Linked DNA regions of Homo sapiens. The protein of the gene in region 3 purifies or fractionates together with the protein of the main gene of each other region. This does not show direct contact. Each region holds a gene or a part of one and is shown on either strand. Other genes may lie near its edges. The genes, in order: MTHFD1L, GCH1 and MAPK10.

The links.
Region 1: the proteins of MAPK10 (region 3) and MTHFD1L purify together in Homo sapiens (affinity purification with mass spectrometry; one large-scale study listed by BioGRID and IntAct). This does not show direct contact.
Region 2: the proteins of MAPK10 (region 3) and GCH1 purify together in Homo sapiens (affinity purification with western blotting; one study listed by BioGRID). This does not show direct contact.

The regions. Positions count from the first base shown.
Region 1 is NC_000006.12:150,882,644-150,886,297, reverse strand, and holds part of MTHFD1L (monofunctional C1-tetrahydrofolate synthase, mitochondrial isoform 2 precursor), read right to left. Parts: intron 3,537-3,654; coding exon 3,412-3,536; intron 665-3,411; coding exon 564-664; intron 1-563. UniProt on the Homo sapiens protein: May provide the missing metabolic reaction required to link the mitochondria and the cytoplasm in the mammalian model of one-carbon folate metabolism complementing thus the enzymatic activities of MTHFD2.
Region 2 is NC_000014.9:54,892,773-54,896,426, reverse strand, and holds part of GCH1 (GTP cyclohydrolase 1), read left to right. Parts: intron 1-3,654. UniProt on the Homo sapiens protein: Positively regulates nitric oxide synthesis in umbilical vein endothelial cells (HUVECs). May be involved in dopamine synthesis. May modify pain sensitivity and persistence.
Region 3 is NC_000004.12:86,009,756-86,014,058, reverse strand, and holds the end of MAPK10 (mitogen-activated protein kinase 10), read left to right. Parts: 3' UTR 1-3,654; downstream 3,655-4,303. UniProt on the Homo sapiens protein: Serine/threonine-protein kinase involved in various processes such as neuronal proliferation, differentiation, migration and programmed cell death.

The DNA.
Region 1 (3,654 bases), on a different chromosome or scaffold from region 3:
TACCCAGCTAATTTTTAAATTTTTTTTGTAGAGACAAGGTCTCAGTATGTTTGCCCAGGCTGGTCTCGAACTCCTGGCCTGAAGTGATCCTCTGGCCTTGGCCTCGCCTAGCACTGAGATTATAGGCATGAGCCGCTGTGCCTGGCCTCATTTAAGTCTTCAACGTAAGTCTTATCTAAGGCTACATATTGATAGATTTAGTAAGCTGAAACTGGAAGCATATTTTACTGTGGTTATTTTGACTGTTTCATGAGAGAAATTGAGCATGTTTAAAACAGGGCTAATCGTTTATCTCTACTAATTTCTCTTTTAATTTATAAGATGGTCTTACTAGAAAAAGTTTCTAGGTATTCATCTGTATCTCCCAAAAGATGAGAAAAATAAAAAAAGTCAACGTGAAATATCACTTCTATGTTCAATTAGAATCTTCTAGAAACATCCTAAAAGGATATCAGAATAATAATTTAAAAAAATTTTTAATTCTTCCCCAAACAAATCCTTATTAAAAATAATGTAAATACCAATAAATAGAAATCAGCGGCATTTCTCAAGGAGCATCCTACCTGATTTTTCAAGAAGTTCAATTACAGCTTTGGCAACAGGTGAAACAAAACATTCATGGGCATCCCCTCGCACCAGCTTCCCCAGGTTTATGTCTGTTACTCTGAATCAGAAAATAAAGAAGTAGGTTAAGTCAAAGCCCAGCCAAAAAAATCACTCACGTGTAATGTACATATATTAACCCCAAATAACATCCAAGTCAATGTTTGATAGACAGAATACATAAAAATGAATTAAAGAGGACCAGGCATGGTGGCTCACGCCTGTAATCCCAGCATTTTGGGAGGCTGAGGCGGGTGGATCACATGAGGTCAGGAGCTCGAGACTAGCCTGGCCAACATGGCGAAACCTCAACTCCACTAAAAATACAAAAGGTAGCTGGGCGTGATGGCACGTGCCTGTAATCCCAGCTACTAGGGGGCTGAGGCAGGAGGATCGCTTGAACCTGGGAGGCAGAGGTTGCAGTGAGTTGAGATCATGCCACTGCACTCCAGCCTGGGCAACAGAGCGAGACTCCATCTCAAAAAAAAAAAAAAACCCATAAAAAATGAATTAAAGAGAAAGCAGGCAATAAAGGCCATTCAATAAAGGTCTTAGAAAATTCTAAGGCAGTACCTTAGGAAACTTCACCCTGGCCCTGACATTGGGTGTTCCGGTTCTGCCAATATACCAGGACACAGCCTAAAGCCATACAGGGCTTCACTTCGCAACTCCAGGGAGCTCCTTTCAATGGACCCCAATGGACTAGCATCCCTAGAGTTACACAGAAGCATGGTCCTGCAGTCCACTCAAAACCCAGAACCAATCCTATAAATCTGGAGTGACCCAGTAAGACCTGGGATTGAGGCACAGGTCACAGGTCTGATTTCAACTTGACCTCGATATTTATCTCCTTGAGAAGTCGGGGTGGGGGGCAGTGGAAAAAATGAGTGACCACACACTTCTGAAGGGTTCTGTGCCTTTCCCTGTTCAAATCTAGGACAAAACATTCCACAGCTATCTAGCCTAAACTGAGCACGTCAATCTCAGTAACAGAATGGAGACATTTAGAACCATTTTCGTAATTTCTCCTTTTACTCTCTGTTGTTTTTGTTTGGTTGGTTTTTCCTGGCTGGGCCTCAGCATGAATTCCCCTCCTTTTATGAAAGACTTGAAACTATGCCCTAGGACCTTCAAGTTCTGAAAGTTTTCTCATGGATTAGTGCTTCTTCTCCTTTTACAGTTAGTCTACGACAGGACTGGAGATTGTCGTTTTTTAAAAAAATGTTTAATTATTTACTTAAAAATAGAGACAAGGGGCCAGGCGCGGTGGCTCACTCCTGTAATCCCAGCACTTTGGGAGGCCGAGGCAGGCGGGTCACGAGGTCAGGAGATCGAGACCATCCTGGCTAACACGGTGAAACCTCGTCTCTACTAAAAGTACAAAAATTAGCCAGGTGTGGTGGTGGGCACCTGTAGTCCCAGCTACTCGGGAGGCTGAGGCAGGAGAATGGTGTGAACCCAGGAGGCAGAGCTTGCAGTGAGCCGAGATCGTGTCACTGCACTCCAGCCTGGGCAACAGAGTGAGACTCTGTCTCAAAAAAAAAAAAAAAAAATAGAGATGAGGTCTCACTATGTTGTCCAGGCTGGTCTTGACCTCCTGAGATCAAGAGATCCTCCTGCCTTGGCCTCCCAAAGTGCTAGGATTACAGGTGTGAGCCACTGTGCCCAGCCAGGACTGGAGGTGTTCATGACACCTTTTCAGCCTGTGTTTGGGTCTACTCAAGTCACAATAAAAGGCTAGAATGGAAGATTGCTGGGTGTCTCAGGAAGGTGGTAGCCTCCCCATCCAGCCCCTGCAGGGTCTACCGGATCTGGAATCTAACTTTATAAATCTGCTTACAACCTATAACCATTAACACATTGTGTTCTTTTTGGCCACAGTACAAAACACTTCCTATATTTCCATGGAGGAAAATGGGGTTTTAATCCCCAGGAAGCATGCTTATCCCCCACTGGAGACGGCCGGTATCCTTTGTTCTATGAAGCTTATGTCACTCCATGACATGAATCACAGGCCAACATTACAGCACCCAATAGTTATGATGTTCCCCTCCAAATTTCAAATAAAACCTTGTGTCATTAAGAAAAGTATTTATTTTGCTTTTCTCAACTGGCCTGGGACTAAGACAGAATATGGTACTGCTGGGGAATCAGGTTTCTAAGTTTTCTTCTCTGGTCTGGTAGAATTACCAAGGAAAAAACTATTAGAAGAATAGAGCTGGCTAAAGATTGTATAAGTCAGACCGGAATTTATTAAATGAATCTGATGGTGTAAGATCATATGGCATTGAAGCACTATAAAAGGGCTAATGTATTTTCCAAAATATGTAACTTTTGCATGCAGAATTTTAAAAGGCTACAGATGGCCAGACACGGTGGCTCACGCCTGTAATCCCAACATTTTGGGAGGCTGAGGTGAGTGGATCACAAGGTCAGGAGATAGACACCATCCTGGCCAACATGGTAAAACCCCGTCTCTACTAAAAATACAAAAATTAGCCAGGCATGGTAGCGCATGCCTGTAATCCCAGCTACTCAGGAGGCTGAGGCAGGAAAATCGCTTGAACCCAGGAGATGGAGGTTGTGGTGAGCCAAGATCACGCCACTGCACTCTAGCCTGGGCAACAGAGCGAGACTCCATCTCAAAAAAAAAAAAATCCTATAGACTCCTGAAATATTTAAAATGATTTTTTTATCCAATTACTGACACAGTTGAAATAAATAGAAGAAATTTAGAAAAATAAAAGCAGGCACAATAGAAAAAGTGATTTAGCCATAAAGGTTGATTATTTGATTTTATTTTCTTACCCATCCACATCTTTTTCTGGTTTCAAGGCATTGAGGACTTTGTTGCTAAACAAGTTCTCAGAGATCTGAAGGGCAAGGCCATGTACTCTGGTATCTTCATTGATCTTTAAGATTTCATCTATAATCTAAAGAGAAAACAAAAAAACAAAATAAAAATTAGTTTTGTGAAAATGAGACCCAACAAAGGAAGCTTTATATAAAAAGTGGATTCATGAAAATGCATCTGTTATAGTTTGTTGTTGT
Region 2 (3,654 bases), on a different chromosome or scaffold from region 3:
GCTGAACTTAAAGGAATGAACCTGAAATGTGGTGGGGTCTTGGACCAACCTGGATGGCAGGGAGAAGGAAGGATACTGGTGGGAGATAGGAGTGAGTGGGAACCCACATCTTTAGGTCCATAAACGCTTCTGCACAATCCCTTTTATTTCTTTAGAGAGCATGAGTCAAGTGGCCACTATATATTGTTTTTGGATAAGAACATACTTCTCTGAAGGTCACTTTTCTGTGCTTGTAAACAGGATACAGGACTTTATATCTTTTATATATCTGTATTCTATATATTAACTCCTGGTTAGTAATGTTGACTTAAGTGTTGTAAAATTTAAAATAAGTTGGTATTTTACATTCTTCAAAATCCATTTTTCCTCCCAGTGCCTCTTGTGTGGATTGATCCAAATTCCTGGCATTCTGGGGAATTTGTTCAGTTTTCCCTACGTTGCAGCGTCTCTCCATGACTGTCTCCTTGTGCACCTTTTCCCTACTTTCCAGTGTGTACCTTCCATGGGAGCATCTGTGGTCATCTGTGACCAGGGTGGTGTCAGGGTTGTATAGGTTTCCTAGTACTATTCCCTACTGGACTGTAGCTCATGGGCTAGGAGGGAGGGCTGGAGGAGACGCTATCATCTCTCCCAGGAACTGGCTGTCCTTTGAATCTACATCACAAGCTGATCCTTGGACCAGCTCAGACCAGCTCGTCTTGATCTATTTCTGTGCCATTTCAGTTTAGCTGTATCCTAGTTCTCTTAAATATTCAAGGTTTTATCTTGGTGAGTTCTCCTTTCTATATAAGGTACCTTTCCTGTATTTCCACTATTCTTTTATTCAGAACCTACACTTAGTTAAATTGGAGAGTCTGCTATTCTCTGAGGGCCTTGATCTTCATGCCCCTGTAACTGACCCTTCCAGGTATACATGGGAACAGCCTTTCAGACAGCATTATCTACCAAGGATTAAATGGGTATAACTTGTTCCATCAGTTGTTTTTTATGAGTTTTTGGGAATATGCAAGAGTCTTGACTCTGTCACATTTCCAGTTAAAGTAGGTTTTAGCTTGTCTGCCAAGACAGTTTTTATAAATCATGTTAACAGTTCAAAATTTTGGGAAGCATGCATATAATCCAGCGTGAGGAGATGGCATTGGAGATGGCTGACTGCTTCCCTGTGAGGGCTGAGGAAGCACAGACACTGGCAGTGAGTCATATCCCCACCTCAGCCATTTTCACTGGAAGATTATGTCTATTCGCTAAAGATAATGGGAGGCAATTAGATACTTTGTTTATACAAAAATGCATCTTAGACACTTCATACTGAAATGTAGCAATCACAAAAGGTTTTTCTTTTTGAATCACAAACCTCTCGGATTTATTAAATTAGACTGCTGTGGTGAACTAAGAATTTTAACAACTTCTAAGATGTGAAGAGGAACAAAAACATAAACTATTTACTATTCTCTCCTATATCATGGGTGAAAGGTGAGTTTATATCCCAAGTTTTAAAGTATATTATAGAAATGCTCTTCTCATCATTAAAAGGTACTATTTTAGATGTGTAGCTCACTCAAATTTTGATCCATTAATAATTTTTGTGCTTGGTTTGTTAATGAACACTTATATAGGACTTAGTTGTGTTCATTGCCAGAAAGAGCACTGTGAATAAAGAAGAAAAAATAACAAGGCACTTTTGACATATTATATGATTGGAATTTTGGACATGTCTAAGTGGAATAAAACAGTTAAGAAGTTACTGAGAAAGGGGGAGAAAAGCCAATCCTAATAGTTTCTTTTAAAAATGGATTATCTATAAACAATTTTTCTGACATGGGAAGAAAAATCAATATACATAACTTCACTATAGCAAGCAAAGCCTTCAGGTTGGTACTCGTACTAGATTCCCAGGGCTGCTATCACACAGTACCGCAAACTAGGTGGTTTAAATGACAGAAATAAACAGTCTCACAGTTCTAGAGACTAAAGTTCCAAAATCAAGGGGTCAGCAGAACCATACTCACTCCAGAACCTGTAGTGGGGGAGGCTGTCCTTGCCTCTTCCCAGCTTCTGGTGGTGGCCGTCAGTTGATGGTGTTCCTTGGTTTGAGCTGCGTCACTCCAGTCGCTGCCTCTGTCAGTGTCCATGTTTTTGTTTTGTCTTATAAGAATGTCAGTCATATGAGGCAGGGTCCACTTTACTCCAGTATGCCTGTGTTAGTTTAGCTAATTACATCTGCAACAACCCTACTTCCAAATAAAGTCACATGCTAAAGATACCTGGGGTTTAGGACTTCAACATATCTTTTTTGGCGAATGGCACAATTCAACTTGTATTAGTACTAAATACTATTATTAAAAAAATTAGTAGGAATTTTACTACAATTTCATTGATCATCAAGTACTACGCACTTCACTGAACGCTGGGAATGCAGGATGAGCAAAACCAGGTATAGTTCCTGCCTTCATGGAACTTACAGCCTAGCAGATAGAATCACATGAAATAGAAATGTGTTGTGAGATTGAGAAATGTGATGATAAACAAAAACACAGCTCAGTGAGAGCACTTGGCATAGGAACTTGACCAATGCCAGGAGATGGGAGCATGAATGGGTGAAGCGATGCTTAAGCCGACTGATGTTCTGAGTAACAAATACTGCTGATGGCTTACTTTGTGCTAAACAGTGAGTTTTTACATGTGTTACCTCATTTGATCCTCACAGTAGCACGATGGGGTAGGCAATATTATTCCCATTTTATACATAAGGAAATTGGGGCACAGAGAGAACTTTCCCAAGACTGTATCTTGAAAGTGGCGGAGCTGAGAGGATGATATAGAAAGAGAATCATTGTAATCTCTGGTAGGTGATTTAATTTTAATAATAATATTTTACTGATTTATTTGAATGATTTCTCCCTTCTTCCTCACCTATCCCCGCTTTTGTATTTTCTCTGCTATTTGCTTTGTCCACCTCTAGAAACCCTTCCATGCCTGGGCATTCCCCACCTGACTCATTTGCCAGTGATTTCTATATGAGGACTGTAATTTGAGTCTAGTATTTGGTTGAGTAGACTGCAGTGTTAAAACTCACCAGGAGAGGGCAACTGTCTAATCATTGGATCCCAGATTATGAATCCTGGATTATGTGAACAATTCTCAGTTCCAGGTTATGCAAACAAATATGTTTCCCATGGTTATAAATTTGCTAGAGTCTATAGTAATTAGATTGGGATATAATTTGTGTTGGGTTATGCAAAGAGTATCTGAACCAAGTTAAATCTGTTATACTCAAGGCCAAGAGGACATTCATTTACTAGAATTTTATTCTATTGGAGCCCATTAGTAGAAATATTTATTTATTTGGAGGCAGAGTCTTGCTCTGTCACCCAGGCTGGAGTGCGGTGGCATGATCTCAGCTCACTGAAACCTCTGCCGCCCAGGTTCAAGCAATTACCCTGCCTCGGCCTCCCGAGTAGCTGGGATTACAGGTGCCCACCACCATGCTCGGCTAATTTTTGTATTTTTAGCAGAGACAGGGTTTCACCATGTTAGCCAGGTTGGTCTCCAAGTCCTAACCTCAAGTGATTGGCCTGTCTCAACCTCCTAGAGTGCTGGGATTACAGGCATGAGCCACCGCACCCGGCCGGAAACATACAATGTTTGTCCTTC
Region 3 (4,303 bases):
GGCTGTGTACTCATGTGCAGGGAAAATTAAACTGCTGCAAGAGTTTGGCAAAACCGCCACCACTTTACTATTAATATGTCTTTACTATTTTTATATGTGTTTTGTGGGTCAGCGTGTTCAATTTTAAATAGGAATACACTAGCCTTACAACGGAATTTCTTCTTGTGGAATAAAAACTGATAATAACCTTTCATCTTCAAGAATCTGATGACTGAGTTTTGTAGGAATGTACCCAACAGTTGGACCAGAGCCTGGCCAGTTCCCACCAATTGGAGTAAGCTATTTAATTGAGGGTTAAGAAGCTCGATAGTTTTTTCAATCTGTTATCAGAAAAATATTATCTAAAGACACTGATAGCAGCTGACTGGTAAAACTGAAAGTTGGCCTTAGTAAATGGAACTAGTAAAAAATAGATAAAAATATGTAAAACCTTTTATGTCCTGTCAAGGAAAAAAAAATAAGCAAACTTGATTTGTTTTAAAATTGTAAATATTCATTGCAAAACCTAAATTATACAAAATCTATTTCGATTTGAATCTCTTAACATATGAAAAGCCACATCTTAAGTGCATTATGCTCTGTAAGGCATGTTATTAGCCAGCTTTGCTGAAAAATGTATTCTTCTACAGCTCAGAAAGAGGAGTAAAATTGCTCTAGAAATTTTTGATCTCAGCCACTTTGCATCCAAAGAGGAACCCAACTCCCCACTCACAATCCCCCACACACATTTTAATTATAAGAGTTCAACATTTTCCACAGATATCATTAAGCCAAGCAAGGAAACTCCTCTCTGTAAAAACAACAAAAAAGTTGCAATGTAAATAGTTATTTTAGCTATTTTCTTTGTGATTAGAGGATAAGATTTTGTTATTTCTTTTGGTACTTAGTCCTTTAACTATCTGAAAATGGCTCACTTTGACCTGTTTCTTTGGTCAGCCAAACTGAAGTGAGGGGCCTCTGTTTATATATAGAATCTTGTATATGTAACTTTACTTATGTGGGACCAATGGCCAGTATATTCTAATGGACACAAATCTCCCAATCCTTATGTAGGATTATCTGTTCACCTTGCCATGTCCATCTTGCAATGAGACCTAACTTGCACCTGCCTGTTTTTCTGCATGATTGGACTCCAAAGACTATTACCAATGATGAGAATTGTCTTGTGTCAGTGTTTATAAAATGGACTTAAAGCACACACACATGCATACCCACATTCACATGCACCCTTACAGTTCTAGATCAACCCTGGAAGGCAAAACCATGTACGTCCAGTTTCTTTGCAAGGTCTGAGCAGTGAGAACTAAATTCAGTCAGTCTAATGGGTAAAATGCAACCTCAGTGATGCTTAATAAGGATTTGAAATCGTTCAAGTCATTTCTGTGTTCTTTCTCACACCCTTTCCTTTCTATTTTGTCTTCTTTTATTTTCAAAATGTCTGTGGAACAAGAGGATGAATCGGGGGAGAACTTCTGCTTCTTTTGACTCTTTTTAGGTAATATGGAGTCAATATATTATGATTTCTGTTTCTTATGGATTATTAAAATCAGAGGAAATCTGCTTCTCTCAACATAAAACCAAATCCAAACCCAGACATTGTTGGAGTTTGCCTGTTGACAATGGTTATGATGCTGCTCGTTGTCTTGAGTTGCATGTAACGACAGTAGCTCTGAAGGGTGTCATGATTTCATTTTGGCAACTGGTAAAAGAAACTTGTAGTGTGGTCTGATTGTGCCAGGGAATAAATAAGAAATAAGGAATGACCTACTTTCTCACCTTGGGTCAAGAGTGTGTGATATGAATGTGACCATGTAGAAATCTGTGTTTTCATTTGACACTGGTTTCTTCTAAAACTGACCTTCATTTCTGTCTGTAGATACTAGTTGTATATCTGCAATTCAGTAATTTCTTTTTAAGGTATAAAATCAATGAAGAAAAAAAAGATCATCTTTTGGGGGGGCATTAGGTAAGTAGAGCAGGGTTAAATTTCCCAGATTAATTATCAGATTTCTATTCATTTTAACTATTTTCCAAGAGAAAAGGTAAAAGCCTTTGTTTAGCTACATGATATCCAACTTTACTATCTCAAACTCCTTGGAGAATTAAAAATATATATGATTTTGTGGCTGGATGAAGAGGTCACTGCACTTGCATTAGTTTACTTTGCAGTGTTTGAACAGTTGAGGAGTGGCTCTTCTATTTCTGTAAATAATGTTTTATTTAACCAATTAACTATTAGAAAGCCTGGAAGATAAACATACACATTATTTTGAGTTATCACATTTATCGTTTTACCTAGTTCCTGTTGGAATATAGAAAGCAACAGCTTTTTGTTATCTCTGGAACAGCTTCTATCCTAGTTTAAATCACAGATCCTTACTCTCTTTAAAAAAGGTCAAGCATAGGTACCTAAAAATACCCACAATAATAAGAAGGGAAATTGCATTCCACAAGATGATTGCTCTTAAAGAGTCAGAAGGAGTTATTGGTGCATTCCTGATACCATAAATGGTTACCAAACATTTGGTAATTTTGACCAAGTTCACAGTAAGGAGAAAAAAGGGTGTTGGACTTGCTTTTCTTGAAGATTACTTATGGAGCAACCAACCTAGAAGGATGAATCTACTTGCCAATAACAACACTGGATCACAGCCAAGGCAGAGGTTTTTGACATTCCCAATTCATCATGGTGGTGTTTTGTATTTGTAACATGTCTTTTCTCCACAGATGTTGAAAGGCATGCTTGGATGACACATGCTAATAGTGAAACACGCTGAAAGTCCTGCCATCACAGATCACTTTATGTTGGGAGCCACTCTATGTGGCAAGTCATCTGTCCCAGTTCCAGACTAAATTTCAACTGTTCAACCATTTACATCATTGTAGTCTGTTTAAGGCACTAAAAATGTGCTGTAGAAATTTATATTTCTCAGACACATGAAATGTGGTGACACATCCAGCAACAAGTCAAACACTCCTTTGAAATTTTCTACCTTATGTCAAATATTTCTTACTTTTAAAGACATTCCTATCCTGGTGTAAAATCCAACATAAAATAATTTGAGGGAATTTAAGGAATTCAAATTTCACTCCGTGGGGTACGTGGCTTTATTTCTTAATCACTGAACTTCTAGTAATGTTCTTCACCTGATCTTGTCTGCGATGTTTAACCAACAGTCCAGATCATTTGCAACTCAAAAGCAGGTACAAAATGTTATCCATCTTAAAAACCCCTCACATATTCCCTAGAAGACTGTCCCACACATAATTCGCCTTCCATTAACACTTGTGAACCCATCCTGGTGAAAATATTGCCTATGAACAATTATACCAAAAAATCAATTTTTATAATGCAAATAATATTTTACACAGACCAAGAGAATTCATAATATTAAAGTATTTCTTTTATAAAAGGAAGGTTTTCAGAAAGCAATGGCCTATTCCTTCATGTTAATACATTGCGAACTTGGATTTGGTGTAAATCAAGCCCTGAGAATATTGCTCTGAATTTCTAGCTTAATTTCTGAGCAACATTCTAAAGCAGTTCATTAATTTACTCCAAAAACATTTCTTGGACACTTCGGTGTAGGAGATATATATTGCATGGTCCTTAACCTAAAAAATTCAGAGTTAATAAATCTTTGTTTAAAAAAACTAAAGCAAATATTTTTATTTCATTTATTTGCTATCTTTTTACAAAATGTATTTAAATTAGTGGTGTGACTTGCACGAGTCCATTTTTATTATTTGCTTAAAGCGATGAAACAAGGAGTCTGCTTCTTTCAATGTTCTTATTTTGTCTAATTATATAAGTATACTTCATGAATCAGCATGAGAATTTTGAATATTTTCCATTACAAGAGATGAAACCACTTTTAAAAATTATTTAAAATTTAAAATTCATTTTAAAAATGCATGGATGTTCTTTTCCGCATTGCAGAAAGTTTGCTTTGATGTATGGTTCCTCTGAGAGCTATTGGACCTAGATGCTGACTGAGCATGGGGCTTATACTTTTGGCATCACAATCTCCAAATTAGCAAATGATATCACAATGGGTACTGAAGCTTCTTTGCAGTGACATTCTTACATGAAGCCAAATCTTCGGAGTTTGTTCAGTCTATGGGTGACTGTTGGAACCCTAAAATAACTTAAAGTAGAATTTGGTCATTTATTGTTTTTTTTTATTAAAAGGTCCAACTGAGAACATCCCTGAACATCTGAACCAGAAATTTGACATAGAGCTCTAAATATTCACTCATTCATTCATGCAACAAATATTTATTTATCAAGCACGTCAACCAT